Linked DNA regions of Homo sapiens. The protein of the gene in region 3 purifies or fractionates together with the protein of the main gene of each other region. This does not show direct contact. Each region holds a gene or a part of one and is shown on either strand. Other genes may lie near its edges.

Region 1 (7,988 bases), on a different chromosome or scaffold from region 3:
CGATGATAAAATCACTGGCGAATGCCAATTTGGGCCAGGGAGAGCATGTGTTCACCCCTAACTCATACAGGCACTGCAATCTGGTAAGGGAGCCTGCCAACCTCAAGTAATATAGTTAGCAAGGTCAAGCAAAAATCATTTTAAAGGCCGGATGTGGTGGCTCACGCCTGTAATCCCAACACTTTGGGAGGCCGATGCGGGTGGATCACCTGAGGTCAGGAGTTTGAGATCAGCCTGGCCAACGTGGTGAAACCCCGTCTCTACTAAAAGTACAACAGTTCACTGGGTGTGGTGGCTGGTGCCTGTAATCCCGGTTACTTGGGAGGCTGAGGCAGGAGAATCGTTTGAACCCAGGTGGCGGAGGTTGCAGTGAGCTGAGATTGCACCACCGCACTCCAGCCTGGGCAAAAGGGTGAAACTCCGTCTCAAAAAAAAAAATCATTTAAAAAGTCACATACTAATAGAAGCCTTCCAAATACAGTAAGAGTTTAAAGGCTAGGACAAAGACAGTACCTTTCTAGTACTTTTAAGAAGCCTGTTCAGGGGTGGGGAGTGTGTCTTCTCTAAACACAAACACAGTTCATTCTCTATGGCCGCTTTATAGTCCATGTTTGCACTCATCACTCTGCATGACTGTTTGTTCATACTCCCATCTCATACTGGACGTGAGGTGAATTCTGTAAGGCAAACATCCTACTTTGTTCTTTTTTCTATTCCTAGCATCCATGACCTAGTTGGTGCTTAGTAAATTTTTGCTGAACTGAAGCAAAGCAAAACAAAACCTGTGGCTACTTTACATTTAAGTCCCAGGTAGCTTCTTTCTGCTCTGGGTTATTTCCACTTACTACTCCACACACATTTACAAAGCGCCCACTCCATGTGAGGCACTGGGGAGTGGGCAGAGATAATAAGCTGTGCTACCTGGCTTGGAGGCACCGATTGTTTAATATGGGAGACAGATGCACAGACCAACCCCTGCAGCACAGGATAAGGATGAAGACCCAGGTCTCTCCAGGTGTGGTGGGAGAGAAGGGAGTGACTGCTCCACATGCCTGGGCTGGAGGTGGGGGAGGGAGATAAGTGCAGTCTGAAGAATGAAAATGTCAGGCAAGCCCGGCGTGGTGGTTCACGCCTGTAATCCCAGCACTTTGGCAGACTGAGGTGGGCAGATCACCTGAGGTCAGCAGTTTGAGACCAGCCTGACCAACATGACGAAACCCCAACTCTACTAAAAATACAAAAATTAGGCCGGGTGCAGTGGCTCACACCTGTAATCCCAGCACTTTGGGAGGCCGAGACGGGTGGATCACCTGAGGTTGGGAGTTTGAGACCAGCCTGACCAACATGGAGAAACCCCGTCTCTACTAAAAATACAAAAATTAGCCAGGCATGGTAGTGGGCGCCTGCAATCCCCACTACTTGGGAGGCTGAGGCAGGAGAATCGCTTGAACCCGGGAGGTGGAGGTTGCCGTGAGCCGAGATAGCGCCATTGCACTCCAGCCTTGAGCAACAGAGCGAGACTCCGTCTCAAAAAAAAAAAAAAGAAAATGCCACGTAAGGCAGTGGGGGCGGGGGGCCTGCAGGCTGTTTGGTATGGCCAGAGCCTGAAGTTCAAGAAATGGGGGGGATGAGCCTGCAGAGGCAGACAGGGCATGATCATGAGGACTCTGGGTGTGCGAGGAGTGACATGATTAGAGCTGCTAAGAAAGGGCACCTGAAAGGCAGCGGCATGGGGTGACAAGTAAGAACTGCAGTGGCAAGCCAGGTGAGATGAACTCGCTTACACATTATGGACATGGTACTTGGGATAGCGGAGCCTGGATTTAGATTTAGGCAGCAAATTTCATGGGAGAGGTGGAGAGAGGAGTTGAGAAAGGTTAAGTGAATAACTGGTAGAGTCATGAGCAGGGAGACTAAGAATAAAGGAAGAACACTTTGGGGAGAGGAGAGTAAGTCTGATTTTGAACAAATCAATCTCAAGATGCAGGCAATGGGAAATACGGGTCTGAGAATACAGAGAGAAATTGAGCCTAAAGAGACAGATTTGAAAGTAAACAGGATATGGTGACATGGACTGGGACAAATGGCACCAAAGTGGTAATGGTATACAGTGAGAATTAGAGACTTTTTTTTTTTTTTTTGAGATGGAGTCTTGCTCTGTCACCCAGGCTGGAGTGCAATGGCACAATCTCGGCTCACTGCAACCTCTGCCTCCTGGGTTCAAGCGATTCTTCTGCCTCAGCCTCCCGAATAGCTGGGGCTACAGGCGCATGCCACCATGCCTGGCTCATTTTTGTATTTTTAGTAGAGATGTGGTTTCACCATAATGGCCAGGCTGGTCTCGAACTCCTGACCTTGTGATCTGCCCATCTCGGCCTCCCAAAGTGCTGGGATTACCGCACCTGGCCATTAGAGACAATTTTATCTAGTAATAATATAAAACCCAGTATGCATCACAGTTTGTAGATCAGTGCTTCTTAAGGATTATTTTGCCCACCAGGGGACATCTGGCAATGTCTGGAGACATTTTTGTTTGTCACAGCTCGGGAGAAGGAGGGGTAGGCTGCTACTAGCGCCTAGTGGGTAAAAGCCAGGGATGCTGCTAACCACCCTACAATGCGCAGGGCAGCTTCCACACATTCTTCAGCAAGAATTATCCAGGGCTGGGTGCAGTGGCTGATGCCTATAATCCCAGCTGCTCGGGAAGCCGAGGCAGGAGGATTGCTTGAGCCTAGGAGTTCAAGACCAGCCTGCGCAACATAGCAAGATCCCGTCTCAAACAAACAACATTAAAAAAAAGAAAGAAAGAAAGAAAGAAAAAAAAATTATTCAGCTGGGTGTGATGGCTCACACTTGCAGTTCCAACTGCTTGGGAGGCTGAGGTGGGAGGATGGCTTGAGTCCAGAGTTTGAGACCAGTGTGGGCAACATAGCAAGACTCCATCTCAAAAACAACAACAAAAGAGTTACCTGGCCCAAAACAGTGCTAAAGCTGAGAAAACCTGTTCTATGTAGGAAGCACTCGAAAACAATTTGCTGGTAACATGCTGCATCTAGCACCTTTGGAGCTGCTCTAGATGTTAAAATCAGGTGTGTTGCAGAAGGTTGGGCTTGCCTTTGTCTTTCAGAGAAACTTTTAAGTACCTCAAGGCATTAAGAATTATAATTTCTAAGAGACTACTATTCTGCAAAGGCAATGTTAATCACAAATAAACACAATTTGGTTTTTTGGAAAATGACTGGAAAATATTTATCAAGTAACTTACAAATGTACATGCCTTCCTTCTGGGAACTGCTCCTACAAAAATGATTCCAAGATATTTACTACATTTTTCCGAATCATTTTATAAGGCCAGTATTACCTTGTTACCAAAATCAGACAAAGATATAGGAAGAAAAATATAGGTCAAGGCCGGGTGCAGTGGCTCACGCCTGTAAGCCCAGCACTTTGGGAGGCCAAGGCAGGCAGATCGCCTGAGGTCAGGAGTTCAAGACCAGCCTGGCCAACATAGAGTGAAACCTCATCTCTACCAAAATACAAAAAATTAGTTAGGCGTGGTGGTGCACACCTGTAGTCTCAGCTACTTGGGAAGCTGAGGCAGGAGAATCGCTTGAACCTGGGAGGCAGAGGTTGCAGTGAGCCGAGATCATGCCACTGCACTCCCGCCTGGGCAACAGAGCAAGACTCCATCTCTCAAAAAAAAAAAAAAAAGAAGGAAAAATATAGGTCAGTATGGGTTATGAATACAGAGACACAAAAATCCTTAACAAAATGCTAGCAAGCAAAATCCAGGAGCATATAAAAAGAATTATATACCAAGACCAAGCGCGATTTATCTCAGAAATATAAGGTTGGTTCAACATATGAAAATCAATCAATATACCATACTAATAGATGGGGAAAACCTCACATGATTTTCTCAATTGATACACAGAAAAAGCACTGGACAAAATGCAACATCCTCTCATGATTAAAAAAACATTCAACATACTAGAAACAGAAGGTAGTTTCCTCAACCTGATAAGGAGCATCTACAAAATACCCACACCTAACATCATACTTAGTGGCCAAAGACAAAGTTTTCCCTCTATGGTCAGGAATAAGACAAAGATGTTGGTTCTCAATACATCTGTTCAACATTGTAGTGGAAGTTTTAGACAGGCAATTAGGCAAGACAAAGAAAAGGCAACCAAACATGATCTTATATACAGAAAATCCTAAAGAATCCACCAAAAATCTACTGGACCTCACAAATGAATTCAGCAAGGTTGCAGGATACAAGATCAATATAGAAAAACCAGTTGTATTTCTATACACTGGTTCAGGCAATGAACAGCCTGAATATGAAAGAAAAGTTACATTTACAATGGCATCAAAAAGAATAAAGCACTCCTCTGGTCCTGCTCAGGCTCAGTTACAAAAAAAAAAAAAAAAAAGAGAAAAAGTACTTAGGAATATATTTAACAAAATTAATATATGGCGTGTACACAGAAAACTATAAAACACTGTTGAAAGAAATTACAGATTGAATGCAATCCCTATCAAAATTCCAAATGCCATTTTTTTAGCAATGGAAAAGCAGATCCTAAATTCATATTATGCAAGGGACCCAGAATACCCAAAATCATCTTGAAAAAGAACAAAGTTGGGATGACTCGCACCTCGCAATTTCAAAATTCATTACACAGCTACAGTAATCAAGACACTGTGTTACTGGCATATGGATAGAAATATAGATCAATGGAGTAGCATTGAGACCAGAAATAAACCCATATGCCTATCTATGGTCAACTGGTTTTCATCTAGGTGCCAAGACCATTCAATGAAAGAAAGAAGTGTCTTTTCAACTGCTGGGACATTTGAATATCAAACTGCAAAAGAATGAATTTGGATCCTTACTTCATACCATATGGGACAAAAATGAACCAAAATGGATCTCGATCTAAAACTATAAAACTCTTTGAAGGAAACAAAGGTATAAATCATCATGATCTTGATTAGGCAATGATTTCTCAAATATGACACCCAAAACTCACACACACTACATATATATATATACACACACACATACACACATAAATTGGGCTTCATCAAAATTGAAAACTTCCGTGCATCGAAAGACATTATTTAGGGCCGGACACAGTGGCTCACGCCTGTAATCCCAGCACTTTGGGAGGCTGGGACTGGCGGATCACTTGAGGACAGCAGTTCAAGCCCAGCCTGATAAACATGGCGAAGCCCCGTCTCTACTAAAAATACAAAAATCAGCTCGGTGTGGTGGCGGGCGCCTGTGGTCCCAGCTATTTGGGAGGCTGAGCCAGAACAATCGCTTGAACCCGGGAGGTGGAGGCTGCAGTGAGCCGAGATGGTGCCACTGCATTGCAGCCTGGGCGACAAGAGCGAAACTCCGTCTCAAAAACAAACAAAAAAAACTCCGTCTCAAAAAAAAAAAAGAAAAAGCTACACAAATAGCCAACTGGCACATGAAAAGATACCCAACATCATTAGTCCTTAGGTAGATGCAAATCAAAACCACAGTGAGATACCACTTTATTTATTTAATTTTATTTACTTATTCCCTCCTACCCCCCTTTTGGCTGAAGTGCAGTGGCGCGATCTCCGCTCCCGGCAACCTCCATCTCCCCGGCTCAAGCCGTCCTCCTGCCTCAACCTCGGAGTAGCCGGAATTACAGGCACGAGCCACAACACCAGGCTAATTTAAAAAATATTTTTGGCCTTCCGCCACGGCCGCCATGGAGAGCAGCAGCCATGGCTCTGCGCTACCTTATGGCCGTGGGCCTCAACAAGGGCCACAAGGTGACCAAGAACGTGAGCAAGCCCAGGCACAGCCGCCGCCGCGGGCGTCTGAGCAAACGCACCAAGTTTGTAGCGGGACATGATCCGGGAGGTGTGTGGCTTCGCTTCGTACGAGCTGCGCGCCATGGAGTCACTGAAGGTCTTCAAGGAGAAATGGGCCCTCAAGTTCATCAAGAAAAGGGTGGGGACGCACATCCGTGCCAAGAGGAAGCGGGAGGAGCTGAGCAAGGTACTGGCTGCCATGAGGAAAGCCGCTGCCAAGAAAGACTGAGCCCCCTCCCCTGCCCTCTTCCTGAAATAAAGAACAGCTTGACGGAAAAATAAAATAAAAATAAAAAATATTTTTGTAGAGACGGGGTCTCGCTTTGTTGCCGCCCAGGCTGGTCTCGAATTTCTGGCCTCCAGCGATCCTCCTGCCTTGGCGCAGCGTTGGGATGACAGGCGTGAGCCACCACGCGCGGCAGCAAATCTGAGATTTAACACAGAGAGCCAGTATGTGCCCAGCGTATGTGTATGTAGTGCACAGAATATGTGGACCACCCTCTATAAAGGTTCATGCATGAGGAGGTCGGCTCTCTCTCACAGTCTAGCAGTTTTCCACACAAAAGCGGCACACATTTTTGCACCGGTCTCCAAAATGGTGTCTGGTTTGGGAGCCCGCAGCTTCCGGAATTACAGGCTCTTTCCTGCTTCCAGGGCACCATTCCAGGCCTGGCCTCAATAGGCCCAAGGCGCAGGCCCAGAGGAGGCCGGGCGGGGTGGGGGGCGGGGTGCGCTACACCCAGTAGGGAGCAGCCCCGGGCGTCCGTGCCGCCCGCAGTGCTGGGACGCCCAACACCGACCAGCCCCGGAGCCAAGTGTGGGGGATGGCAGCCCGCACACATCGGGGCTGGCCTCGCCTCCCCTGGGAGGTAGGCTTGACAGCACAGGGGGTCGGTCCAGCCTTAGCACGGGGCCAAAACTCAGAATGGGGGAGGGGCTCCATCTCCCCTTGGGGCTCTCCAGTTTGGGGGCCTCGGGGCTGTTCTGGTTTCCAGGCTGAGCCTCACCATCTTGTTTAGCACATGGTTAGGGGGCCTGGACTGGAGCCCAACAACCGGGGCTCTGAGACTGGGGCACCCTGGGGCCGCGGGGTTGCTTCTTGGGTGGATGAGAATGTTCCAGAATTAGACAGTGGTGATGGTTGCACAATCTTGCCAATATAATAATAAAAAAACCCACTGGATTGAACCCTTTTAAAAAAGTTAATTTTAGGGTATGTGAACTATATATATATATATATATATATATATATATAAAGGATGTTTACTACACCATGCTGTAATAGTTAAAGTGAGAAACATCCTAGATATCCAACAACAGGGGAATTTTGTAAGAGTCTGTAGACTGGCCGGGCGCGGTGGCTCATGCCTGTAATCCCAGCACTTTGGGAGGCCGAGGCGGGCGGATCACGAGGTCGGCAGATATGTGAGACCATCCTGGCCAACATGGTGAAAACCTGTCTCTACTAAAATACAAAAAGTTAGCCGGGCGCGGTGGCGTGCGCCCGTAGTCTCAGCTACTCGGGAGGCTGAAGCAGGAGAATCCCTTAAACCTGGGAGGCGGAGGTTGCGGTGAGCCGAGATCGCGCCACTGTGCTCCAGCCTGGGCAACAATAGTGAAATTCCGTATCAAAAAAAAAAAAAAAAAAAAAAAGTGGGGGGATTCTGTAGACTAGCGGGCTGTAATGTGCAAAACGCTAACGCCACTGGTCTGTAAAGCTGAATACAAAGTAGCTTCTACAGGCCAGGGCGGTGGCTCACGCCTCTAATCCCAGCACTTTGGGAGGCTGAGGTGGGAGGATAGCTTGAGCCCAGGAGTTCAAGACCAGCCTGGGCAACATAGTGAGACACCCCTCCGCCCCATCTTAACAAATAATTTAAAAATTAGCCGGGTGTGGTGGTGCATGCCTATAATCCCAGCAGTTAGGAGTTGTTCACTGTAAAACAACATTTTAGACAGCTGACTTAAAAAACAACAAAATTTTCTCTTAACACTTATTTAAGAAATACTTCAGGCGCAAGCTTTGTACTAACGCCCACCCTGAGTTGGTATTTTCAATCCTATTTTACAAATGAGGAAACAGGCTTACAGGACTAGGTACCACACCCAGCGTAAGTTAAATGGTGGAA
Region 2 (7,988 bases), on a different chromosome or scaffold from region 3:
TTAATACAGCATGGGGGAGTTTACCTGGAGCAGACAAGCCAGGAAAGAAAAAGGAAAATGAAGTCTAGGTCACCTATTTAGAATAACCTTAATGCCAGAGTAAGGTGGTTAGGCTCCCTTCTATAGAGAGTAGATAGGAGGACTATAAGTCTCAGTTTGCCTGAGATACTCCTGGTTTATGTGTCCAACTGGCCTGGCATTGTCCAGGAATTTTCACTTTAAAACATATTAGTATTAGTTGCATCAAAATTGGCTAGGGTGGAGCCTGACCAACATGGCAAAACCCTGAGTCTACTAAAAATACAAACATTAGTCAGACATAGTGCTGTGCACACCTGTAATCCCAGCTACTCCAGAGGCTGAGGCATGAGAATCATTTGAACCCAGGAAGCAGAGGATGCAGTGAGCCGAGATCGCACTACTGTAGCCTGGGAAACAGCATGACACTGTCTCAAAAAAAAAAAAAAAAAAAAAAAAAAGGCTAGGGTGGGTTTGGCAGACCTCTTCTTTGTACTTCCAGCTTCTGCCATGGTCTCATTTGGTAACATAACACACATAACACATGGTTAAATCTGTAAAATGACTAGTGATAAGCTATCTCCCCTTTTCCTACCCTTTCCTGATGCAATGTGACTAACAAATCCTTTCGGGGACAACATGTGAGGCATTCAATAAAAAACGGAATGGATTCAGATGTAAGACCCTAGGGATAGCTACTTCTTTCAGTCCCAATGGTGATGAGAGAAGTATTTCACGTTTTTGTTCCAATGGAATTTTTTTTTTTTTTTTTGAGACACAGTCTCACTCTGTCGCCCAGGCTGAAGTGCAGTGGTGCTATCACAGCTCACTGCAACCTCTGCCTCCCGGGTTCAAGTGATTCTCCTGCCTCAGCCTCCCAAGTAGCTGGGACTGCAGGCGTGCGCCACCACACCCAGCTAATCTTTGTGTTTTTAGTAGAGATGGGGTTCCACCATGTTGGCCAGGCTGGTCTTGAACTCCTGACCTCAGGTGATCCACCCACCTCGGCCTCTCAAAGTGCTGGGATTATAGGCATGAGCCACCACACCCAGCCCCGATGGGCTTCTTGGTGTATCAGCAGATGCACTGGAGGAGACGTACAAAGTTACAGGTGCCAGTTGGTGGGACCAATGGAAAATTATAGTGAAATATAGTAGAATTAATAAGAAATAAAGGCAGAAAATAGAGTTAAGCAATCTTCTAAAGAGCTTTTAGAGTAGTCTGAATGTTTTTCTAAATGGTTTTGTCCTTTATTGTATCAAATAACTAACTACATATTAATTTTATTGATTGCTATGCTTTTGAAATTTTGGGAAAAAAATGAAAACCAACACAACCCTTTCAGTGGTAATGAGCTAAAAAAGTATATCAAGTACATATTTAATAAAAGATTAAATACTAAATTTCTTCTTCTCAGGAAAGTTGATAATGAAAATATAACTTGAATAAAATGTTTGTTGACATTTACCACGGGGCTACAGTCATACTATAGTGATAACACCAACCACAAGAAAATTAGAAGAGAAAGAAGTCCCGAAGAAGCATCAGTATCTATTCAAGTTAGTAGTTATCTTGAGAAGGCTGCCTAAAAACTGTGATTCTACTCCTGCAGAAGGTGATTTATATCTTGTGAAGCATGATTCTTCCTAAGAACTCAGTGCTCTCCAAAACAACTTTCTGAGGTGATGAAAATGGTCTATACCTGGTACTGAGCAATTGAAATGTGGCTAATGTGACAGACAAACTGACTTTTTAACGAAGTTAACCTTAATTGATTTAAACCTACATAGCTGCATGTGGCTAGTAGCTACTGTATTGGACAGCGCAGCATTAAAAGAAATGTCAGTTGTTCTAAAATAATTTTGTTCATTTTTCATTCCAAGTTTTCTGGTGCAAGCATAAAAAGTGAAGTGACTGTTAATGGGTTGTCTCCATTATCAAAAGAACTTTCAGATGAGATCAGGTGCGTTCAGGGTGGTATGGCCATAGACAGCAAAAGAACTTTCAAACAGTTAAATGATAAAAGTATTATATCAATGTCATCAGGAGTTTTAAATAGAAAATCGCCCGTATTAATTCCAATAATAGTTTAGTTTACTCTTCAGTTCATGGAAACAAAGTAAATCTTCTGGAAGTTCATTCTGCTGAAAGTGAAATATCTGACATCAGTGGGGATTCTATCTAAATTTATTTGAAAAGTTTAACACTAATGATAAAATTCTTAATTTTTACAGTAATACAAATACAAACTTTGGCAGGAAATAGCGTTCAGCAGTCCTGCGAAAGAAGTGCTTTTAGAGTAGTCTAAACATTCTTCTAAATGGTTTTATCCTTTATTGTATCAAATAACTACATATTAATTTTATTGTTTTCTACAGTGCTGTAGGAAAAATCAATATTCTTTTTTTTTCTTTTTGAAACAGGGCCTTGCTCTGTTGCTCAGGCTGGAGTGCAGTGGCACCATCTCGGGTCACTGCAACCTCCACTTCCCAGGTTCAAGTGATTCTCCTGCCTCAGCCTCCCAAGTAGCTAGTATTACAGGCACGCACCACCCACACCTGGCTAAATTTCGTATTTTCATAGAGATGGGGTTTCACCATGTTGGCCAGCCTGGTCTCGAACTCTTGACCTCAAGTGATACACCTACCTCAGCTTTCCAAAGTGCTGGAATTACAGACGTAAGCCACTGCACCCAGCCAGAAAAATCAATGTTCTTACTATATTAGGAAATCTGTGAAACACAAAAGTACTTGAATTTGGAATTACAATTCATGATTCTATCCAAATGAGCTGCAAGATAACACACCAACAAAAAAGAAGCCATACTTGTCAAATTTTCAGATTTTATTTATATCTAGAATTGCTGAACAACAGAATTTTTGAAAAAAACATGTTTTGTTTCTGTTTTTGTTGCCCAGGCTGGAGTGCAGTGGCCCTACCACGGCTCACTGCAGGCTTGACCTGGGCTCAAGCAATCCTCCCACCTCAGCTGCACACAAATCAATGTGATATACAGAAAAACTACTAGACCTCCTGGCCTCAAGCAATCCTCCCACCTCAGCAGCGCACAAACCGATGTTAATTAAATACACAAAAAATACTAGCATTGCAGGACATACTTTCTCCCTCTGCTTGGAGTGATTGGGTTTTTAAAATCTTTAAGCCTTTGAAGAGCGAGCGACTCTGTAAAACAACCTAAGTGTCCTACTGTAATAATGGTATTATTATTATTAGAAACAAGTCCTCTAAATCTTAGTTGCATTTAGTTGAAAACAGACATCTTTAATCAAAGCATTAAACTTAAGCTTTTGAAGCTTTTAGTGAAATGCAATTCATGAAAACAAAACTTATGCACAGGAAGACACTGAAATTTATCCCTACAAAAGCAAATAAGAATTGAACAAATTGTACATGAAAAGCTGAAATGGTGAATGATTTCATTTTAAAATTCTGTAACTGTACTTTGGAATATCTTGACTTGTGGGAAGAATATTTTGATAGAACTCCTATTTTTAATTGTATTAATTTATGTTCTGTGCCAGAATGAAATAAAAGAGTAGGCTTAAAATCTGTGAAACATCCAAAAGAATCATAGACAACTTGATGAATTTTGTCCTTAAAAACAGTGAAGACCCTATTATTGAAGAAGTGTACCCTGAATGGAGATAAAAAGACAGAACCTATAAAAATACTGAGGCTGAAGTATTTACCCATTTCAATTAAAACAAATTCTTAAAAATTATGACTCTCCCAGCTAGTAGAATTTGCTCTGAGCCTGCCAAGTACCTTAGAACCTAACATTTTTCTCATTAAAAAATATTATAGTCTAGGCCAGGCATGGTGGCTCACGCCTGTAATCCCAGCACTTTGGGAGGCGAGACCAGCCTGACCAACAATGGAGAAACCCCATCTCTACTAAAAATACTAAATTATCCAGGCATGGTGGCGCATGCCTGTAATCCCAGCTACTTGGGAGGCTGAGGCAGGAGAATTGCTTGAACCTGGGAGGCAGAGGTTACAGTGGGCCGAGATGGTGCCATTGCACTCCAGCCTGGGCAACAAGAGTGAAACTCTGACTCAAACAAATAAAAAAAAGAAAAGAATTGAAGATTTAACTTCAAATTTATTCAGCATAAAATGCAACTCTAAACAAGGCTACAGCTAATTTTTTATGAGAAAAATTAAAATAACACTGTATTAAAAATATATTTTTCAGAAAAATATCAGCAATACCATGGGACAGACAGGCTAAGAAACTGATTAAAGCACATAAATATGTACCAGAAATGATTATCTTACATATGTTAACATTTAGATCATATGTTTAATGTTTGGATAATCAATGTAAATAAATATTTTTATTTTTTTCTTAGGTAAACTGGGTAAGTTGTTAATTTACATATTCCTAGAAAATTATACCTTTGTTTCAAATTTTCAAAACTATTGGCATAAGGGTGTCAATGTATTCACGTATTTTGAAGCCTATATTGTACCTTTTTTATCTCTAATATTATTTTATTTGTGCCTTCTCTTTTTTGATTCATGACTCTTGCTAAAGCATTGTTCTACTAGGTTCTACCCCCAATAAACCAGATTTTAGTTATAAGATGTATGGGATTTACTTTAAAATAATAAAGAGTAAGGCGGGGTGTGGTGGCTCATGCCTGTAACCCCAGCACTTTGGGAGGCCAAGGCTGGTGGATCAATTGAGGTCAGGAGTTCAAGACTAGCCTGGCCAACATGACGAAACCTTGTCTCTACTAAAAATACAAAAATTAGCCAGCTGTTGCGGAGGGCATCTGTGATCCCAGCTACTTGGGAGGCTGAGGAGAGAGAATCACTTGAACCCAGGAGGCAGAGGTTACAGTGAGCCGAGATCGTGCCACTGCACTCCAGCCTGGGCGACAGAGCTAGACTCCATCTCAACAAAAAAGAAATCCGCTATCAGTGTCTGGGCATGAAGATTAATTATATCAAGACTTCATCAGCTTTATGACATAACCTCAAGGAGTCAATGATTACCAACGCATTTCTTACTACCTCAACTCTATCCTCAGAGAGCAACATTCCTTCCCTAATCTGACCACCTCTTCTTGACTCTTAATCATTGAGTCTCATGAGGTTCATGGTGAGGCACAAGCAAAATCTCTATATACTCAGCTTTCTTTCTGGTCATTCTTCTGGGGTCACTGCTTCCTCTTCAGCCCTCTTAAGTAGTGACTGATTACTTTCTATACCCCACTGGTACTAGAGACAAAATCAAAACCACGTAGTGTCAACCTCACTAATTCAAATTCCTCCCCTTCCATTATCTTGAATCCACTTCAAGGTTTTCATTCTTACCATTCCATAAAACTTGCCAATGGCCTCCACATTGCTAAATCTAATGGTGAATTCTCAGTCTTCAACCTGACTCACCAGGAGCATTTGACAGAGTCTATTATTTCCTGTTCCTCAAACACTTCATTTGGCTTCTAAACATCCTTCTTGTCTTTCAGTTCTCTACTTTTCTAGCTACTCTTTCTTAGTCTCCTTAGCTGGATCCTCTTTAACTTGATCTCTAAATATTTTGGAGTATCCTTGAACCTCTTTTCTTACCTATATTTACTCCTTCCCTAGGTGACTTCATCCAAGTTCACAGTAATAAATATTATGTTTATAAGGACAATTCTCACATTTATATTCTTAGCCAGAACCTCAACCCTGAACTCTGGAAGGTATCAGCCAAAGATGTAAAGGTGACCCTTGAACAACATGGGCATTACAGGTTCCAACCCCTAAACAGTCAAAAATCCACATAGAAGTTTTGATTATCCTAAAACTTTACTAACAGCCTACTGTTGAGTAGAAGCCTTACTGATAACATAAACAATTAACACATATTTTGTCTATGTATTATATACTGTATCTGTACAATACAGCAATATAGAGAAAAAATATATCAGGAAAATCATAAAGAGGAGAAAAAATATTTACTATTTATTAAGTGGAAGTAGATCATCATAAAGGTCTTCATCCTTATCGTCTTCACAGTGAGAAGGCTGACGGGGAACACGAAGAGGAGTTGGTCTTACTGTCTCAGAGGTGGAAGAGGGGGAGGAAGTAGAGGAGGAGGCAGGAGAGGCAGGCATACTTGGTGTGACCTTATAAAAACACATCATAATTTCCGTCTGACTCTTTTCCTTTTTAATTTCTCTAAAAATGTTTCTATACAGTACCAATCCTTCTTCCACCATTTCCTTTAGTTTCAGTGCTCATAACATAGAAGGGTCTATGTTGTAAAATAAGTCAAAAGCAGTCTTGAATAATCAGAACCCTTCTGCCAGATTGCCTAAAGTCAATTTGTTTTCTGGCACTACTTCTTCTACATCTTCTTCCTTATCACTTGGCAGTAGTTAGGAAGAACTCATTTCTATCAAATTGTCTTCTGCTAACTCTTCGGTTTAGTGTCTATTAGCGTTCCTTTTTTTTTTTTTTGGAGACAGAGTTTTGCTTTGTTGGCCAGCCTGGAATGTGCAGCGGCACAATCTCGGCTCACTGCAACCTCCACCTCCTGAGAGAAGGTGGAGTGTGGGATTACAGGCGTATGCCAACATACCCAGCCAATTTTTTATGTTTTTGGTAGAGACCGGGGTCTCATCATGTTGGCCAGGCTGATCTCAAACTCCTGACCTCAAGTGATCCATCTGCCTGGGCCTCCCAAAGTGCTGGGATTACAGGTGTGAGCCACCGCGCCCAGCCATGTCTGCTACCTCTTGAATGTCTCCAAGGTCTATATCTTGAAATTACTTCGCTCCCTTATCTTTTTTGCCATACCCACAATCTCCTTCATGATTTCCTTGACTGGCTCTGCTGTCAATCTTAAGTCATGCACAACGTCTGGACACAGTTTTCTCCAGCAGGAATTTGTTTCGGGCTCGATGGCCTTCAGAGCTTTTTCTATAACAATGATGGCATCTTCAATGGTATAATCCTTCCAGACTTTTAGGATGTTCTCTCTACTGGGGTTCTCTTCCATAGCAATGACAATCCTTTCCATAGATTAGTTTATGTAATGAGCCCGTAAAGGCCTGTATGAACTCCTCATCTAGAGGTTGAATTCGAGACATTGTGTTTGGGGGCAAGTATACCAGTTTGACACCTTCAGTATTGAACTTATGGTGTTCTGGGTGGCCAGGGGCATTGCCCAACATTAAAAGAATTTTAAAGGCAGTCCCTTACTAGCAAGATACTTTCTGACTTCAGGCACAAAGCATCAGTGAAACCAATCCAGAAAAGAAGGTTCTCATTGTCTAGGTCTTTTTGTTATACAACTAAGAGACTGGAGTTTATCTTTTCCCTTCAAGGCCCGGGGGTTAGTAGCTTTATAAATAATGGCAGTTCTGATCACAAATCTGATTGTATTTGCACCAAACATTAGAGTTAGCCTTCCTGCCTTAAATCTTAGTGCTCACTTTCCTTCCTTACTAATAAATGTTCTTTGTGGCATTTTTCCCCCCACAGAATAGGGCACTTTAGTCTACATTAAAAACCTGTTCACCAGCCTGGCCAACATGGCAAAACCCCGTCTCTACTAAAAATATAAAAATTAGCTGTGTGTGGTGGTGTATGCCTGTAATCCCAGCTACTCGGGAGGCTGAGGTAGAAAAATCGCTTGAACCCAGGAGGCGGAGGTTGCAGTGAGCTAAGATCGCGCCACTGCACTCCAGCCGGTGAGACAGCTAGACTCCATCTCAAAAAAACAAAACAAACAAACAAACAAAAAACCTGTTCAGGCAGATGTCCTTTCTCCTCAATGATTTTCGTAATGGTGTCTGGGAATCTGCTGTCTCTTGGTCAGCAGAAGCTGATTCTATTGCCATCTTGACCCTTTCTCTTTCTTTTTTTTTTTTTTTTTGAGATGGAGTTTCGCTCTTGATCCCCAGGCTGGAGTGCAATGGCATAATCTTGGCTCACTGCAACCTCCACCT
Region 3 (3,500 bases):
CTACCGACTTGGAGATGAAAAATAGCTTTGTCTAAAAGATGAAGGTGAAAGAATCAACAAAAATGAATATTAATATTAGTCACTTTCAGAAAGCCACGCAGAGGCCACCTATCTGAAACATGCTATGATTGAGGCTAAAATACCTACGAAAGCTGATCACACACTGAGCTTCAAATACTTCACTTTGTTATCCCCCATTTTACAGGAATCAAAGGCAGAAAAGAATAAGTAACTTTCCCAAGGCCTCACAATAAACTGTGGCACTACTATTTGAACTTAGGGTGGCCGGGCGCGGTGGCTCACGCCTGTAATCCCAGCACTTTGGGAGGCTGAGGCAGGCGGATCACAAGGTCAGGAGTTGGAGACCAGCCTGGCCAACACAGTGAAACCCCGTCTCTACTAAAAATACAAAAATTAGCTGGGCGTGGTGGTGCGTGCCTGTAATCCTAGCTACTCAGGAGGCTGAGGAAGGAGAATTGCTTGAATCTGGGAGTCGGAGGTTGCAGTGAGCTGACACAGTGTCATTGCACTCCAGCCTGGGAGTCAGAGTGAGACTCCGTCTCAGAATCAAACAAACAAACTTAGATCTGGGTCGTATATCTGTGCTCTTTCCATTTTCTTGTCCCCTTTTATACAAATAATGGAGCAGATAAAACTGCTGTCCTACCTCCTGATACATCTCTTCAAAGACTACTTTCCTCCTACATCATCCCTAAGCAATCTTGATTTTTTTTTTTTTTTTCTGAGACACCAGGAGATTGCACCACTGCACTCCAGCCTGGGAGACAGAGCAAGACTCCATCCTAAAAAACAAAAACAAAAACAAAAAAGTCGTTGTGCAGATTTCTTTTTAATGACTGGTTTGTAAAAAGGTCTTCATGTGCATATGTGGGGGAGGGAGGTTATGAGAAACCTCTGTACTTTCCACATAATTTTGCTATGAACCTAAAACTGCTCTAAAAAATAAAGCTTTTTTTTTTTTTGAGATGGAGTTTCACTCTGTCACCCAGGTTGGAGTGCAGTGGCGCGATCTCGGCTCACCGCAACCTCCGCCTCCCAGGTTCAAGCGATTCTCCTGCCTCAGCCTCCCAGGTAGCTGGGACTACAGGCGCACCACCACACCCAGTTAAGTTTTGCATTTTTAGTAGAGACAGGGTTTTGCCATGTTGGTCAGGCTGGTCTCGAACTCCTGACCCCAGTGATCCACCCCCCTCGGCCTCCCAAAGTACTGGGATTACAGGAGTGAGCCACTGTGCCCGGGTTTAAAGTCTGTTTTTTAAAAAGTCTTTAAAAGGACATCAATTTATTATACCCTCTGTCCATTTGTAAACCCAGCCCTTTGATAGTATCAGTGCCATTTCCTTTTCTAGGAAATAGAATTATACCCCTGAGTTCACTTTGTGGCCTTCCTTCTTCAAAAGTCAATTTTGATATCTACTGACCTCCAGAATAAACCTCCTCCAAAAAATACTGGGCCTATAGAAAGAAAGACTATTTTGGGCCGGGCACAGTGGCTCACACTATAATCCCAGCACTCTGGGAGGCTGAAGCAGGCGGATCATTTGAAGCCAGGAGTTCAAGACCAGCCTGGCCAACATGGTGAAAGCCTGTCTCTACTAAAAATACAAAATTAGTCTGGTGTGGTGGTGGGTGCCTGTAATCCCAGCTACTTGGGTGGCTGAGGCAGGAGAATCGCTTGAATCTGGGAGGAGGAAGTTGCAGTGAGCCGAGATCATGCCACTTGGGCAACAGAGCAAGACTCCGTCTCAAAAAAAGAAAAAGAAAGGAAAAAGAAAGAAAAGACTATTTTGGGTTGAAGTATGAGAAGTACATTAGTTTTGCCTTTTTTTTTCCCCCCAAGATGGGAGTCTTGCTCTGTCACCCAGGCTGGAGTGCAGCAGTGTGATCTCAGCTCACTGTAACCTCCGCCTCCCGGGCTGAAGCAATTCTCATGCCTCAGCCTCCTGAGTAGCTGGGATTACAGGCACCCACCATCATGCCCAGCTACTTTTTATATTTTTAGTAGAGACAGGGTTTCACCATGTTGGCCAAGCTGGTCTTGAATTCCTGACCTTGTGATCTGCCCGCCTTGGCCTCGCAAAGTGCTGGGATTACAGGTGTGAGCCACCACGCCCAGCCTAGTTTTGCCTTTTAACTGATAAGCTCTAATTAGGGCATGTGCTAATGAAAACTGAGAAATTTAAATAATAGGACAAAATGAGAAAAACTAAACAGAAATTTTTTTTTTTACCTTGTCTGTATTAAGGAAACAAACAGGATTGTTGGGTTCAAATACTCCCATCAACCAAGGATTATCAGAATAGTCAGCATAAAATTCCAGTTCCAGCTTCACATCTTTAAAGTGACGTAGGTTTATCACTGCATTGGCCACTTTGTCTGATCCACACTCCAGCTTGCCCTCATAGGTCAGCTTATTACTTAAGGACATAATTTTACTAAGGGAATTACAAAAGATAACTTTAGTTTTGGTAGATGGAAACAAACATGAAAACCACTCCTAGCTAACACTGTTACAAATACCTGTTCATTCTGTACTGCACGGTTAACTGTACAACAGCACTCTTATTCTGCTCCAGCCTCTTGAATAAGCTTTCACTCATGCCAAGAGCTCTGTCAATAAATCAGATTCATGTTTATCAGTGTACTAAATCTGTTCCTTGAAAATAATCTAGTTTAAAATTAACACTTAAGTGTCTGCCTACCTTGCTTCACGGTTTAGCACCAGGGGAGGAAGCTGCTGATGGTCCCCCACTAACACAAATCTCCGTGAAAAAAAAAGGGGGCCCAGACAAATTGGTTGGCTAATTTGAGAGGCTTCATCCACAATACAAAAATCAAAAATTTTACGGGAAAATATTGGATGGTTTATTCCCATACATGTTGTTGCAACTATAAGCTAAAAACAAGGAAAACAGATCAGTTATTTAACATGTAAAAGAAATGTAGTTTTGTTTCTCTCATTTTTGAAATGAAAAGATCAAAAGGTTTTTGTTCTATGGCATCAGGAATCCTTCGATATTATTTAATTCTGAAATATTTATAGCATGCAAATTTTAATTTTTTTCTACAAATTAAAAATAATCAAGTAAACTTTCCAGACACTATTGAACAATGCTCACATTTGGATATTTCCCAGTGGAAATCTGGAACATTCAAGAGGTAATAAGTTAGTTCTTTTTTTGTTTGTTTGTTTGTTTGTTTAATGTCAACCAGGACTTTGCTTCTGGGAAGATGGAGTACTTTTCCTTATTCTTTCCACAAACGACAACTAAAATCCCTAGGCATTATATATAAAAAAAAAAAACAAAAGAAGACTCTGAAAGGTGGAGAGAAGGCAGACCAGCTAGGGAGCTCAGGACCAAAGAAACAACACAGTAGTTGATTCCCTGGGCTTTCTTTTTGCCTCATAGATCCCAGATTTGGAACTGAAGGAGCCACGGCACACCAGTGGGTGCTAAAAACAGCTGCAACCAAAGTCT
Region 4 (7,988 bases), on a different chromosome or scaffold from region 3:
TCTATTCTAATATCTTGCACATAGAAAGTATCAACCAAAAAGCGATTACCTGTAAAAACTATTTCGCATTGACTATTTTTGGCTAAGTGACACCTTAACTGTCCAAGTTCTACAATCTCTTAAAATGCCTGACTTATAAAGAACTTACAGAAATACTATGAAGCAGTTATACACAATTACCCAAGTATATAGATACCTAGAAATAACCAAGAAATATAAAATGTTCTTTGAAATTGTCATTTACTGTTTAACACAGTGCCTAAAACAATGACCGATGAGTAGTCAAATATTTATTTGAATACATGAACTGAAAAAAAGTTAATACTTTTGACTTTCTCCTTATTTTATGCATTATACATTTAAACTGCTAATATCTTAACATACTAATAAAAGATCATTTTCACATATATAAATAGAATGAAGGTTAATGTTATCTCTTCAAATTAGTAAAATATATCCCTGTTAAATGAAACTCTCATTCCTTTCATTCAAACTACCACAATCCTGATGAATGCAAGCACAATAAAAATAATGAACTTGGTTTGGAGAATGCCAATATCTATAAAGCAGGTAACATAATCATATCTAAGAATACACAAACCATCAAAAGTAGTAGTAGTTTCAAAACTGAGGAGTTATTTATTTTTTTCCACTTTGATAATTTTTGTCAAATGGCAACTACTCAAGTGAAAACACTGCTATATTATATTTGTTTATACAGACTGTACCTCAGTTTAAATTGAAGGGATGATAAATGCAAAGATTTCACATACTTCGAATATAATTTTTACCAATAGTTCACACAGTTAAGTAACTACAAAAACTGGGAGTCAGTTTCCTCCAAATGTTATGCTTCCTGATTTAGACAAGACAAAAATTCTCTATTTCTGAAATCTAACCTTAAACTGTTCTTCCAATTTCTCTCGAAGAGGGCTCAACTTTTCCAAGCTCTTACTCAGGTACACATGACCGTGGAATTTAATAAAGGCCTTGATGAAGTCAGAAACACCCCACTTGGTTTTCACCTCATCTCGGCTGAAATGAAAGAAAAAAATTCCATGAATCATAAGCAGCAAATTGGCTACAACTGTTTAAGGAGGCACTGGCTTGCTAAATACTTGATACACAAAAGAGCTGTATTTGACTGATTTTTCAACTGCAACACACTCAAGATGAGTCAGTATTAACAGCCTGTGTACTCTTTTACTGGGACTGAATCAGATATTGATTGGATGAAATTCAGTGACTATACACAAATTATGAAAAATCTATATGTTTAGAAATAAGAGAAGCATAGGCCGTTATTTTCTGTAAACCAAATTATGAGGAATTAAGGCTCCAGGTTACAAAGTCCTCTTGGAAAGAGAAAAAAAAAACCAAACAACCCTACCTTTCCAGTGCTTTAGAAAGTGCTTTTTGCAGATTAGTGGAGGCAGCTGGGAAAGGGAACTTCACAGCAATGCTTCTGCAGTAGTAGAAAATTGTGGTCAGATGGTCTCCTTTGGAAGAAGCTAAGATAGCCAACTGATTATAAGGCTGACCTACAGGAGAAAGTTAAGATTCTGGAGTAACCCCAAGAGTGACAAAGTCTTGCTATAAGAATACAAATGATCAGTGTTTAAATACTCAAACAATGGGGAGTATTTTTATAAGGTAAATATGACTGCCTCATTGCAAACCAGCGTAAGGTCCAACAGCACACTTCAGCGACAGTACACACTATCATATACAGGTTAAACAGTCAATATTAGGGTAGAGAGCGGCTTCAGCAAGGGCTAGATTATAAATAATTTCAGTTTTGTAGGCCAAAGGGTCTCTATCACAACCACTCAACTCTGCCACTGTAGTGTGAAAGCAGCCATAAACAAATATGAAACAAGTAGTGTGGTCAGACTATCATCCCTGCTTTAGACTCTTTCTAGAATCTAAAGGAATTTCAACGTCTTAGTAAGAATGATTTAAATAATTAAATATCTGCTGTAATTTCTGTAACTCAAGAACTACTGCTAATGCCTAGTTTGGGGCCATTAAAAGATTATCTTTTAGGTAATAGATTGTTTTTCTGGGGGGAGGGGAATGGTGGTATCTAAAGAAATAATTATTCTATAAGCAATTAAGGAAGCCAGAGTTGTAGAAACAATATCAGATTACATTAAGAGATTCTATCTATATTGCTTTACTGACAATAATAAATAATAAAATAAAATAAATAATAAAAGTCATCTTACTTGTAAAAAAAATTCATTTTAGTTTACATGGAATGTACAGTTAAATGGAAAAACATGACAATAACAAAACTCATTTATTGCTTTCATAAAACTTCAAAGGTGAGCCCTGAGTTATCTGCCACATTGTTATAAAGAACAAAGTGTCACGGTCAATCTCAGGTTGACAGGTCCACTCACCATTGGAGGGGACAAGCTGAGCTGCATGCCTATAGTAGGACTCTGCCTGGCTGGTCTGGTTTCTGTATCGAGCTAAGAAGAAGAAAATTAGTTTTAAAAAACCCAAAAAACAAACAGTAGGGTAGTATTTCCAAAACAGCTATAGTTTTAAGTTCTAAAGATAATAAAGACATTAAAGTTAATTTAAAATTAAAGACAAAATACTTTAAAACAAATTAACTATAGGATTATGTGTGAAGTGTCCATCAGCCTTCCTTATTTGGGACATTCAGCATGTAACCAATTTTAAAGCTTACCTAGACCCCATTTTCAGGTCCTCCAGTGTCATGCATCACCAGCTCCCACTATGGACTATGCTGGTGACCTGGAGCCGGCCCACAAGAAGGGGTGAGTTATATGGCACTTAAAAACAAAACAAAACAAAATACACTATACAATATGATCTGAAAATTATGTATTTTTCAATATTTTATAAAGTGATTTTGAAAAATGTCTCATTCCTATTGCAATATTAAATATGTGTGTGCAAAGATTATATTTAAAGCAAAACAACCTAAACACAGTATCAATGAATCTCCCTGCCAAACTCACTGCTTACTCTGATGTGACCTCCTCATGGAACCGCTGACTTACAATATTAAGAAATCTAAAATTTCAAACTTAAAAGCAGTAATGTTCTCCATTCTTTGTTATTTGAGGACAAGCAAAACATAATCCTATAGTTAATTTGTTTTACAACCTTTCTAGGTCACCTTAAAGGAATGAACAAGAATAAATAAGTTATATAATATTCCCAGATAAAATGCAAATAATAGAAATACAAATTAAACTTTAAAAAGGAAGCAAAATTAAAAATCAACTTTTAGTCCATTGGTAAGAAAGAAAGAAGGCAATTTCGCTTCAGGAGTAATTTATAAACCTCATTTATTCCAGAAGAGTACATTTAATTTAGAAATTATGGCACCACTTTGAAAAATTAAGCTTTGATTATGTTTTTGCTGTTTATTATTTGCCTATATAAATTACATAAAGTTGGAATAAAATTTAAATCTTAATATGAAAGTTACTTTCTTCACGATGCTCTGCCAATCCCAAAAATATTGAGAAATTTTAAGTTCCTTAGAATACATTTTATAGTTTCTTCTTATGACAATCTAAATTGTGTGTGTATGCTCCGCTTAAAGGAAAACAGTTTCTTTCTATGACTATTCCAAAGAAAAGGAGGAACATATTATCAATTCCTTCACAGCAAAGGCTCACCAATGTCTCCAAGGTGGACGAGGCAGTGCTGGCAGATATAGGAACAGGAGCTAGACTGTGGCTTCACTATGGCGCTGGTATGCGTCTGTTTATTGCTGATAATTCCCAATTGGGAAGACTTCACACGGCATGGTAAATCTACATTAAATACTGTACACAGTTCTTGTAATAACTAAAAGAAAAACAAACAAAATTTAGTAGTAAGTCACAAGTGCTCTAAAAGTAAAGTTTATAAACTGTAAGATGTGTACCTAGTACCACATACTGCTGAAATCTGAACAAAAACTGCATGAAAATTATATGGTAATCTTTCGGGCCTGGCACAGGGGCTCACGCCTATAATCCCAGCACTTTAGGAGGCCAAGGCGGGCGGATCACTTGAGCTCAGGAGTTTGAGACCAGCCTGGCCAACATGATGAAACCCCGTCTCTACTAAAAATACAAAAAAAAAATCAGCCGGGAGTGGTGGTGAGCACCTGTAGTCTCAGCTACAAGGGAGGCTGAGGCACAAGAATCGCTTGAACCCAGGAGGCGGAGGTTGCAGTGAGCCGAGATCACGCCACTGCACTCCAGCCTGGGTGAGAGAGCAAGACTGTCTCCAAAAAAAAAAATATATATATATATATATATTATACGTTAATCTTTCACAGGATAACTAGTATCATTCATTATAAATCATACCTTTTGAATTCTCAAGTATTACAGCAATCTAGGATGTGCATACAGCAGCATTTTAAAAAAAGATTATTTAACTGGATAGGATTTTCAGACACGATTTTCAGACACATTAAGCAAGCAAAGAAAGCTACTACTCTCAGAAACCCAAAAATTATTAAATATTGGTTACAAATTTGACTTAAATGTAAGCCAAGGTATTTGTCAGACTTTAGGTATTTCTTGCAATTTATTTTCTTAAGCTGTATGCCAATTCACATGTCTTTGCATATACAACGAATCTCACCGTAGTGTACACCTTTACTGTATCACCCATTCCTACCTCCTCTCTTCTCTGTTCTTAAAGTATGAGGGGCTCTTCTTCCTAGTCAGAGCTAACTCTTCTGCCTATGTGTGCCTATTGCTACATTCTTTTCTGGTTCCTGTCTGTCTCCCACCTCTCCATTCTTTCATCTACTGTCAACTTTTCATGCTTCTTTCCTATGGCCTACACACCACGTCTCCCACAGAAAAAAACAAGAACAAAAAACAAAACAGAGCTAAAACACTCTCCTCTTGACTTTATAGCAACCTTTTAATGTCTCTCCTTCTTCTCAACCAAATGCCTTCAAAGGAGTCCACACTTTTCATATCTGCTTTCTCAATTTCTATTTACTCCTTAATCCATTATCATCTGGCTTCCACACAACCCCTCTCCCTCCTCTCACCCAACCATCCATTACCACTCTACTGAAACTACTATCAGACAATTGGTTACCTAATAGCCAAATACAACGGATATTTTTCAGACATCATCTTATTGGACCTCTTTGCTGCACTTAAAACATCTGATCTTATGGTTGATTACTGAGCTGTTCTAGTTCTCTGTCATCTCTCCAATCACTCCTTTTCAGTCTCCTTCATAGAAAGGCTTTTCTCCTCTCACTTTGCTTGCCAAGGGCTTATTTCTTGCCCCGCACACAGTTCTTCACACTGTGAAGAATATTTACTTCACAGTTATTCAAATATTTACTTACAAATATCGTCATTCAAATATTATTATATTCATCCAAGTATGTGCTAGTATATCAGACACCCAGTAAACAAGAAAGATACAAAGACAAGTAAGAAAATATGTTTCCTTCATGAGCTTGTAGCTAAATGGGCAAGTCAGGTACAAAAAGAGAAGTAGAGGGGAGAGAGGGAGGGAGAGGGAAAAGGGAAAGGAGAGAAGGACAGACAACATGACACACAATATAACCAACAGAATATTCTACATTTATAACGTAACTTATTTCCCTAGGTTATCTGATAAATTTGTCTCACTTTATCCTTGTGATAAACTAGTAGCAACACAGTATACATAGATATAAAGCTCAATTTTTTTCAGATGAGGATGTGAAGGCAGAAATAATCAAGCGACTGGACTAAGGTTATAGAATTAGAAATATTTTGATTCTATCACCACTCTTTCTAGCATGTACAGAATTCAAAATACAAAATAAGACACCCTAAGGGCTCAACTCAGAAGGATCTGAATCATGCCACCTTTTTCCTAAGATAAAAATCACCTCCATAACTAAATATAAATTCTGCGCACCCTTTCTCACTGGGCATGGAAATTATTTACTCCATCTTTACTTGTACATTTGTAATGGGCAAGAAATTCACTAACATAAAATTGGGTAAACAAGGCCAGGCATGGTAGCTCATGCCTGTAATCCCAACACTTTGGGAGGTCAAGGCGGAAGGATCACTTGAGGTCAGGAGTTCAAGACCAGCCTGGACAGCAAAGCAAGAATCTGTCTCTACAAAATAAACAAATGAATGAATATAAAAATGAAAATAAAGTGAAACAAAAAATTAGCCACGTGTGGTGGCATGCAGTGCTATAGTCCCCGTACTTTGGAAGGGTGAGGCGGGAGGCTCACTTAAGCCCCAGAGTTCCAGGCCGCAGTGAGCTATGATATACACTGCACTCCAGCCTGGGTGACAGAGAGAGACCCCGTCTTAAAAAATGAATAAATAAAATAAAATAAAATGAATACATAAAAAAACAGGGTAAATAAGTTAATGTCCTGAACGGGATGGGTTAAGAAATAGAAAAAGCACAAGGCACAGGGCAGGAACAAAAAAAATATATATATGTAAATATATATATACCTACATATATATTATGAAAAAAACAAAAAACAAAAGTGGATAACTAAGAAACATGAGAGGGTTAAAGAACTGACTTCAATAGGTAATGAAAAAACAGACTGGAAAACTAGGCAAGGCTGCACATCTAGCAAAAACAAAAAAGAAAGATCACAAAAAATAAATAAAATTATGGTTGGAACATCATGTAGAATGTCTTGTAATAAAATTTCTGCCTGAGCCCAAGAGTTTAAGTGGTGATATCAGACAGAAAAGCTCCTACTGGCTCAAAGATTCTGAGAAAGAGAGCTCTAGTTGGTTTAGAGGCAGTAACAAGATGGAACTAAAGAAGAGAAAAGGATGTTTCATAAATTGAACAAAACAATGTCCTACCTTCATATAGGTTGACCCTGATGTACATTACTTTGTAGTAGTTTCCTCAGTCTGATAAGAACTTAGTTACTTCATTATACAGAAGTATTGACTGGGAGATATTCCTAAGGCTGTAGCTGAATATTAATGCCTCTAGTTCTTCCCAAATTATAATCATGGAACTATAAAACTGGAAAATGAACCTATAAGCATTTGTCAACTCTCTTTTTTACAATCAGAAAGCTAAGCACCACAGAGGTAGTGACTTGTCCAAATAGTCACAATTAGCCCTAGAGCAGTACTAGAACAGTTTCTGGGTTCCTATTTATCAATTTTTACACTATCTCTTGTCTCCTCAGCTCTTTATTCCATGCCAAGAATGAAAGATTGATTATGAAGGTATAGAATATTACCTTTTAAACTAATACAGAAACTCAGTGATTATACTTTCTTTTTGGTTCCTATTTTCTTAGAATAAAGGCTACCGTTCTGTTCTTTGATGTTTAAAAACAACCTACAGCAGAATGGTATGTCTTTACTTTGACCAGGAATTTGGTTCTGCTTTAAGCCCCATGCTTTAACTGGTTAACAAAATGGTAGCTAAGAAGTTAAAACTAAACCAGCCTGGGTAACATAGTGAGACTCCATTCTACAAAAAATAAAAAAAGGTAGCTGGTATGAGCCTGTAGTCCTAGGTATTTGGGAGGCTGAGGTGGGGAAGGATCACTTGAGCCAAGGAGTCTGAGGCTTCAGTGAGCTATGATTAAGCACCGTACTCAGCCAAAATGATAGAGTGAGCGCCTGTCTTTAAAAAAAAAAAACAAAAAACTAAAAAACTATCTTCACAGAAAATGTTACTGTGGATAACCAAGTACTAGTCTCTTCTCAATCCACTCTAATCAGGTTTCTATCCCCAACACTGCTGAAGTTACATTTCATCAATACAAAGACACCATAAATTATAAGATGAACCATCATCTTATATAATATTGAGAAAAAACCACAAGTTATATGGTCACTTGTCATCTGTTATAAACTTATCTCTATTTCAGATATGTTAAAATATGAAAAAAAAAGTTTCAGAAATGAAGAAATATGGTATTCATTAAGTTCACCAATGACTTTCATGTTGTCAAACCTAATTGGTCACTTTAAATC

The links.
Region 1: the proteins of DNA2 (region 3) and DCAF4 purify together in Homo sapiens (co-immunoprecipitation; one large-scale study listed by IntAct). This does not show direct contact.
Region 2: the proteins of DNA2 (region 3) and WDHD1 purify together in Homo sapiens (co-immunoprecipitation; one study listed by IntAct). This does not show direct contact.
Region 4: the proteins of DNA2 (region 3) and SMG7 purify together in Homo sapiens (affinity purification with mass spectrometry; 2 studies listed by BioGRID and IntAct, with this or other methods). This does not show direct contact.

The regions. Positions count from the first base shown.
Region 1 is NC_000014.9:72,927,712-72,935,699, reverse strand, and holds part of DCAF4 (DDB1- and CUL4-associated factor 4), read right to left. Parts: intron 6,136-7,988; exon of another isoform or gene 5,944-6,135; coding exon of another isoform or gene 5,880-5,943; exon of another isoform or gene 5,736-5,879; intron 678-5,735; exon of another isoform or gene 514-677; intron 1-513. UniProt on the Homo sapiens protein: May function as a substrate receptor for CUL4-DDB1 E3 ubiquitin-protein ligase complex.
Region 2 is NC_000014.9:55,014,927-55,022,914, forward strand, and holds part of WDHD1 (WD repeat and HMG-box DNA-binding protein 1), read right to left. Parts: intron 1-7,988. UniProt on the Homo sapiens protein: Core replisome component that acts as a replication initiation factor. Binds directly to the CMG complex and functions as a hub to recruit additional proteins to the replication fork.
Region 3 is NC_000010.11:68,419,974-68,423,473, forward strand, and holds part of DNA2 (DNA replication ATP-dependent helicase/nuclease DNA2), read right to left. Parts: intron 2,918-3,500; coding exon 2,724-2,917; intron 2,632-2,723; coding exon 2,542-2,631; intron 2,457-2,541; coding exon 2,252-2,456; intron 1-2,251. UniProt on the Homo sapiens protein: Key enzyme involved in DNA replication and DNA repair in nucleus and mitochondrion.
Region 4 is NC_000001.11:183,522,445-183,530,432, reverse strand, and holds part of SMG7 (nonsense-mediated mRNA decay factor SMG7), read right to left. Parts: intron 3,838-7,988; coding exon 3,666-3,837; intron 2,721-3,665; exon of another isoform or gene 2,702-2,720; intron 2,478-2,701; coding exon 2,406-2,477; intron 1,542-2,405; coding exon 1,391-1,541; intron 1,036-1,390; coding exon 900-1,035; intron 1-899. UniProt on the Homo sapiens protein: Plays a role in nonsense-mediated mRNA decay. Recruits UPF1 to cytoplasmic mRNA decay bodies.